Linked DNA regions of Homo sapiens: region 1 is linked to region 2. The links come from fine-mapping of genetic effects on gene expression. Tissue or cell type: whole blood. Region 2 holds a variant in brackets; the other region holds the start of a gene. Each region is shown on its reference strand, or each on the opposite one. Region 1 holds the start of NFIX (nuclear factor I X). Region 2 overlaps NT5C3A (5'-nucleotidase, cytosolic IIIA).

Region 1 (2,908 bases), not on the chromosome of region 2:
CATGGGTGTATGTGTGTGATCCCTGTGTGCATGGCTAGATGATTCTCCCAGGGGGGTTGTCAGCCGCCTGGGCATCAGTTGGTCAGTGTGTCCAAGGCCTGTGGGTACATCTGGGCAACCCAGTGTGTGTGTGTGTGTGTGTGTCTGTGTGTTGTGTTGTGACAGCCAGTGTTGCTTTGTATCTGTGACGCTGTGTATCTCTTTGTATTGGGGTCCTTTGCATTCACTTCCAGGTGTTTGGTGTGTGTTTATGTGACATTGTGTATCTTCCCTTCATTAGTGTCATCTTATTTATTTAGTTATTTTTTTTCAGACAGGGTCTTGCTCTGTCACCCAGGTTGGAGTGCAATGGCACTATCATGGCTCACTGCACCCTTGACCTCCCCGGGCTCAAGGGATCCCCCCACTTCAGCCTCCTAAGTAGCTGGGACCACAGGCATCCACCACCACACCCAGCTAATTTTTGTATTTTTGGTAGAGAGGGGTTTTGCCATGTTGTCCAGGCTGGTCTTGAACTCCTGAGCTCAAGCAATCCACTGGCCTCGGCCTCTCAATCATCAGTGTCATTCTGTACATCGGGGTGTACTGCCACAACTGCCAGTGTGTTCTGGCACTGCGATGTGTGTGTGTTGTGTATGTGTCTGCGTGTAGGAATTGTGTGTCTGGAAGGTGTCAGCGTGTGGCTGTGTGATCTTGCATGTGTCTGTGTTCTGCAGGAACATGCGTCAGTGTGTGTGCATCAGTGTGCATCTCTATGTGTCATGCACTGGTGTGTCTTCGTGTATATCAGTGTGTGTCTACGTGACGCCTGCTTTGGTGTATGTCTATACGCGGTTCCTTGTTGTGTGCCTGGATACCATGGTGGGACGGTGCATGTCAGAGCGTGGGTCGTGGGTGTTTTCCCAGACTGCTGTGTGTGTGTGCCCGTGTGTAGGGGTTGTGTGTCTGTGCCTTGTGTGCACTGGTGTCCGAGTGTGCTTTGTGTTCGAAGGCGGAACGTGTGGCCAGGCGTTCTGGACGTGACATGTGTGGCGGGGTCCGAGTCCCGCTGCGTGTCAGCGTGTGTCTGCGCTGGAACGCGGGCCAGCACGTGTCAGGGCGGCCGCGTCGGTGTGCGCCCCCGCGCGCGCGTGTGCGTGTGTTCGTGTGTGTGTGTGCATGTGTGTGCTTGTGTGTGTGCGCCGGCCGCCGCTCCCCCGCCCTGCCCGCCCCTCCCCGCGCCCCTCCTCCCGCCCGCGCCGCCCGCCCGCTCCCTCTCCCCGGAGTGCGCCGCTTCCAAACTTTGTCTAAACTTTCACTTTCACAGCGCGGCGGCTGCGGCGGCGGCGGCGGCGGGCGAGGGTGACCGGCCGAGCGGCGGCGGCATGGAGTAGACGCGCGGCGGCAGCGGCGGCGGCGGCGGACGCGAGAGGCAGCGGCGAGCGCGGCGGCGGCGGCGGCAGCGGCGGCCCCGGAGCCGGCGGGGCCGAGCTTGCGAGCGGCGAGCGCGGAGCGGCGCCGGGCCGAGCGCGGGGCCGCGGGCCGGGCGGGCGCAGCGCGGCGGAGGCCGGAGGAGCCGAGCCGGAGCCCGAGCCCGAGCGCGGCCGCCGCCTGCCGGGCCTCCCCTCGCCGCGGCCGGCCGCCGCGCTCCCGCCCGGGCGCCCAGCTATGTACTCCCCGTACTGCCTCACCCAGGTACCGGCCGCCGCCCCCGCGCGACCGGGGGAGGGGAGCGGGCGCGGGAGGCCGGCCGGCGGCGCGGGCGGAGGGGACGCGCGGCGGCCGGGAAGGGGGGGCCGAGAGCCCGCGGGCCGCCGAGGGGTGCAGGCTGTGCCGCGGGGAGCCCAGGCACGCGTGCGGGCGTCACCGTGCGCGTGCGACCCTGGCCACCGGGCGGACTCCTTTTGGGGGTTCCGGGGGTGGCCAGCTGCGTCGTGGCGCTGCCCGTGGAGCGCAGGCGGGAGTGCGTGTACGTGTGTGTGTGTGTGTGTGTGTGTGTGTGCGCGCTCGACTGGGGTGCGATGGGCAGCGGGACTCCGGCTGACCTGTGGGCTACTGTAGCGCGCACCCGGGCAGCGTGGTCGCTGGCAGTGTTTGCGGGGTTGACAGAGTGGCAAGAGGGTGGTCCCGAGGGCGCAGAGGGGACACTGGGTCCCGCGACGCTTCCTGGGGAGGGCGCAGCGGTTCCCGAGGGTGGCAGTGGCCGGCGTGCGTGGCGGCGGCCCTTGCGTGCGGCCGGGGTGCCTGGGGTGGGCCGAGCGGCCCGGGCGTCTCCCCAAAGTCTTTGTTTAGGCCTCACATGGGAGCGGGGCTAAGAAAATGGCGGGGCTCCCAAATTTCGGAGGGGCAGGGGAGGGGAGAGGGGGGCGGGCGCGCTGCCAGCGGTGGCCGCGCCTCTCCGACCCCGGACGTCGCAGCCTCTGCCCCCCCACCCCCAAACTTTCCTCGGCGCAAACTTTCTGGCCCCAGCGACCCGGGCTGCTGCGGAGTGGACCCGGCAGGCCTGGGGAATCCCGTCCCGTCGCCTGGAGGCGGGAGGGGCGGGAGGCAGCCGTGGACACAGCCGACAGTGCTGCGGCCACACCGTCGGGTCAGCCTCGGGCACAACAGCGCCGACCTTGGCGCGTTGCTAGAGCGCGTCCCGCCTGCAGCGAAGTTCCCTGCGCGGCGCACGGCTGCGGCAAAAGCTTCGAGGATGCCTGTCGGGCCACCCAACTCTCCCTGGGCTGTGGCCTGAGGCTCTAAGAGGGCACAGAAGCTGCCCAGAGTCCCACAGTGGCCCTGACAGCGTTGCCTGCAGGGCCAAGCCACAGCTGGTAACAGTCTCCGAAGAGGGGACATCTAGGGGCTGCTTAGCCCTGCTGCCAGCCAGGCCTGCATGTGGGGGTTCTCTAGGCCAGGCCCTAATTGTCCCCTCTGCCCAGCCTGA
Region 2 (2,908 bases):
TAAAACTGAGTCACATAGCCAACTGAATGAACAACCAAATTGAATCTTAGAGTGTTTCCCCTCAACCTGGAAAGAGACTTCTGAAGGTACTTTGCTTTTTCTCAACATCTACAGGTGAAACAAGAAGCTCTTAAAATTAGAACATATAAAATGTAATTTCTGAGACCTAAGACTCTTCAAAGTTTTGCACATTCATTTCTTCACAAATTATAAAGAAGTTTTGCATTATACTGGAACATTATTTTATTTCCTAAGTTTGTATTTCAAAATGCCCAAAATTTCAGTAAGTTATAGAATCAAATAAGAATCACATAAAGTTAGACAAGAGAAACTCATTTACATGAACCGTACACACTTACCCTGAAGGTAACCGGACGAGCTACACCAGCAAAAGAAAATTCTTCCTGTCTGAGAAGTACTAATATAGCACAAGGTGCAACTGAGGGCGGTTCCAAAAGCCTTGACTAAGCCCTATGCAAAAACCTTGTGACGCACTGCTGCACAGTACTTTATATATGCTCTTGGTTACAGCCTCGCTAGCTCTGAGCTAGTCACAAGTCAATCTACATAACATTATCAATTGAAGTTATGTGACGATTAAAGAGAAGGTAAATCTGTACTATTAGAACTGGCAACTGGCTCTGGAAAGAAAAGAGGAACCTCTACACTAACACTTAAAAACATTCCTTTCCACCTGGTTTGTCAGTGGTTTGTCAGTGTACTTCTGATATGTGAACTTTTCTGTATATTCTATTTTAATACAAAGTTAAAAAGATTAGGTTGCTGTTGCCAGGGCTGGAGGAGGAGGATGGGGAATTATTGCTCAATGGATAGAGTTTCAGTTTTAGAAGATGAAAAGAGTTCTGGAGTGGACAGTGGTTATGGTTGCACGGTAGTGTAGATGTACTTAATGCCACCAAATGAAATGCTTAAAAATGGTTTAAATGGTACGATTTATATTATGTATATTTTACCACTATTAAAAAAAAGATTAGCTCACTTAAAGTCCATAAACAAAAAGACATGATATATGCAAATGTGGTCAAAAAACTGTTAATAGTCTTTATCAAAGGGCAGTGGGATTTAAAGTAATTTTTATATTTTCTTATACTTTTAATAAGACCAGCCATAAAATCTGAAAATAAAAATTAATTTCTGTTTTTAAAAATGGGGGGAAAAAGTTCCTGCCTGTTAAAAATAAGAGCAGTCCAACTGTCATGAAGAAAAAAAAATTTTTTTTTTTAAAAGAGAACTAGTCTTGCTTTTAACCTGAGTAGTAGGGTGGCAATATGCTAATACCATGTGTCAGGACCTGATAGATAAGTTATGCCATGGGCTGTGGGAACCTTTATCATTAGGGAACATGGCTACACTACACTTATGTAAATA[A/G]ATTTTTATTATCGGCTTTCTCTCTACTGTCCTCAGAGAAATCTAGTCTAGTAATATTTCAGTAATCAAATTTTGTGAAGTATCGTTCTCTATTAAAAACAACATGAAAAAAATTTTAAATTGCTGTTAAAAATGGTGTTAAAAAACTATCCAGGCTGGGTGTGGTGGCTCATGCCTGTAATCCCTGCACTTTGGGAAGCCTAGGCGGGTGGATCACCTGAGGTCAGGAGTTCGAGACCAACCTGGCTAACATGATGAAACCCCATCTCTACCAAAAATACAAAAAATTAGCCGGGCCTGGTGGCAGGCACCTGTAATCCCAGCTACTCAGGGTAGGAGAATCACTTGAACCCAGGAGGCGGAGGTTGCAGTGAGCTGAGATTGCGCCACTGCACTCCAGCCCAGGCAACAAGAGCAAAACTGTCTCAAAAAAAACAAAAAACAAAAAAACCCCAAAAAAACAAAAAACAAAACTATCCAAATTTGTATCTACCAAACGTGAAACCTTTGACACTGCTATCTTATTTAAATAAAATAATAAAATTCATAATGAAACACTCCTCTAAGAGGACAGCCTATTATCTCTAATCAGTAATGAAGACTCAAGGGCCACAAAGGGCTCCATTTCTAAAATATTTCTGTATTATGTATGAAAATGATGACTTAAATGTACTTTAATATTATTAGAGTTGACAATGGTAAGAATTTAAAATACATCACTTTGAAAGATGATTCACAGATCACTTTCAACAACCAAGAATATTGAAATGATAGTTCTACAATCTTTTTGGAGTGCAATTTAGAAATACTATTAAAAGCATTAGAAATATACATTCCCTTTGACACATCAATTTTGTGTCTAGAAATTTTTCCTAAAGAAATTAGGCAGTACACAAAACTTTAGCTGCCAGGACGTATACTGCAAATTTGTTTTATAATTCTGGGAAACTTGAAACAACCTAAATGGCCAATATTCAAATGTTCACTAATACAGAAGAGGTGAATAAGCTGTGATACATACAGAAAATATAAAATTATACTGCTCTTAAAAATGATTATTATGAATAGCTAAAATGTATTGTGTTTACTATGTGCCAGATGCCTCTAAGCACTTGACATTCCTTGTCTCATATAATACTTATAAACAACCCTAGAAGGTATGTGCTAGTATTATTTTCAATTTACTGGTGGGCAAATTAAGCCTTATACTTGATAAGCGGCAGAAATGGATTCTAACTCAGTTCTCTCTAACTTCAGAATCCATGTTTCAGATCACTGCACAGTACTGCTCCATGAGCTGAGTATTTACAGACATATGGTCTACTACTGATTGAAAAAAGTTATAATATCTACAGCAAGAGTCCAATTTGAGAAGGAAAAATCTTTATACAAGTATAGGAAAGTTTAAAATAGAATACATAAGACAGTATTTGTAATGACATTAAGGGGCCATTTTTACAACCTGAGTTTTAGAAAATAAATGTGCTCCTTGGGAAATTTAAATAGCGTGTTAAAAACG

Evidence for each region.
Region 1: it holds the start of NFIX, and the variant in region 2 is fine-mapped to the expression of NFIX in whole blood (TOPMed, PIP above 0.99).

What each region holds. Positions count from the first base shown.
Region 1 is chr19:12,994,191-12,997,098 of GRCh38, forward strand. NFIX (nuclear factor I X) reads left to right here and starts at 1,285. Exons shown (of 11, transcript NM_001365902.3): 1 at 1,285-1,674. The coding sequence starts at 1,648. RefSeq lists a silencer at 1,232-1,391 and an enhancer at 1,566-2,154.
Region 2 is chr7:33,040,513-33,043,420 of GRCh38, forward strand. All of the region lies in intron 1 of NT5C3A (5'-nucleotidase, cytosolic IIIA), which reads right to left. Among named protein-coding and RNA genes, the nearest start is that of NT5C3A, 21 kb to the right of the region's middle. RefSeq lists a silencer at 416-515. The variant A/G (reference allele first, on the strand shown) is at 1,390.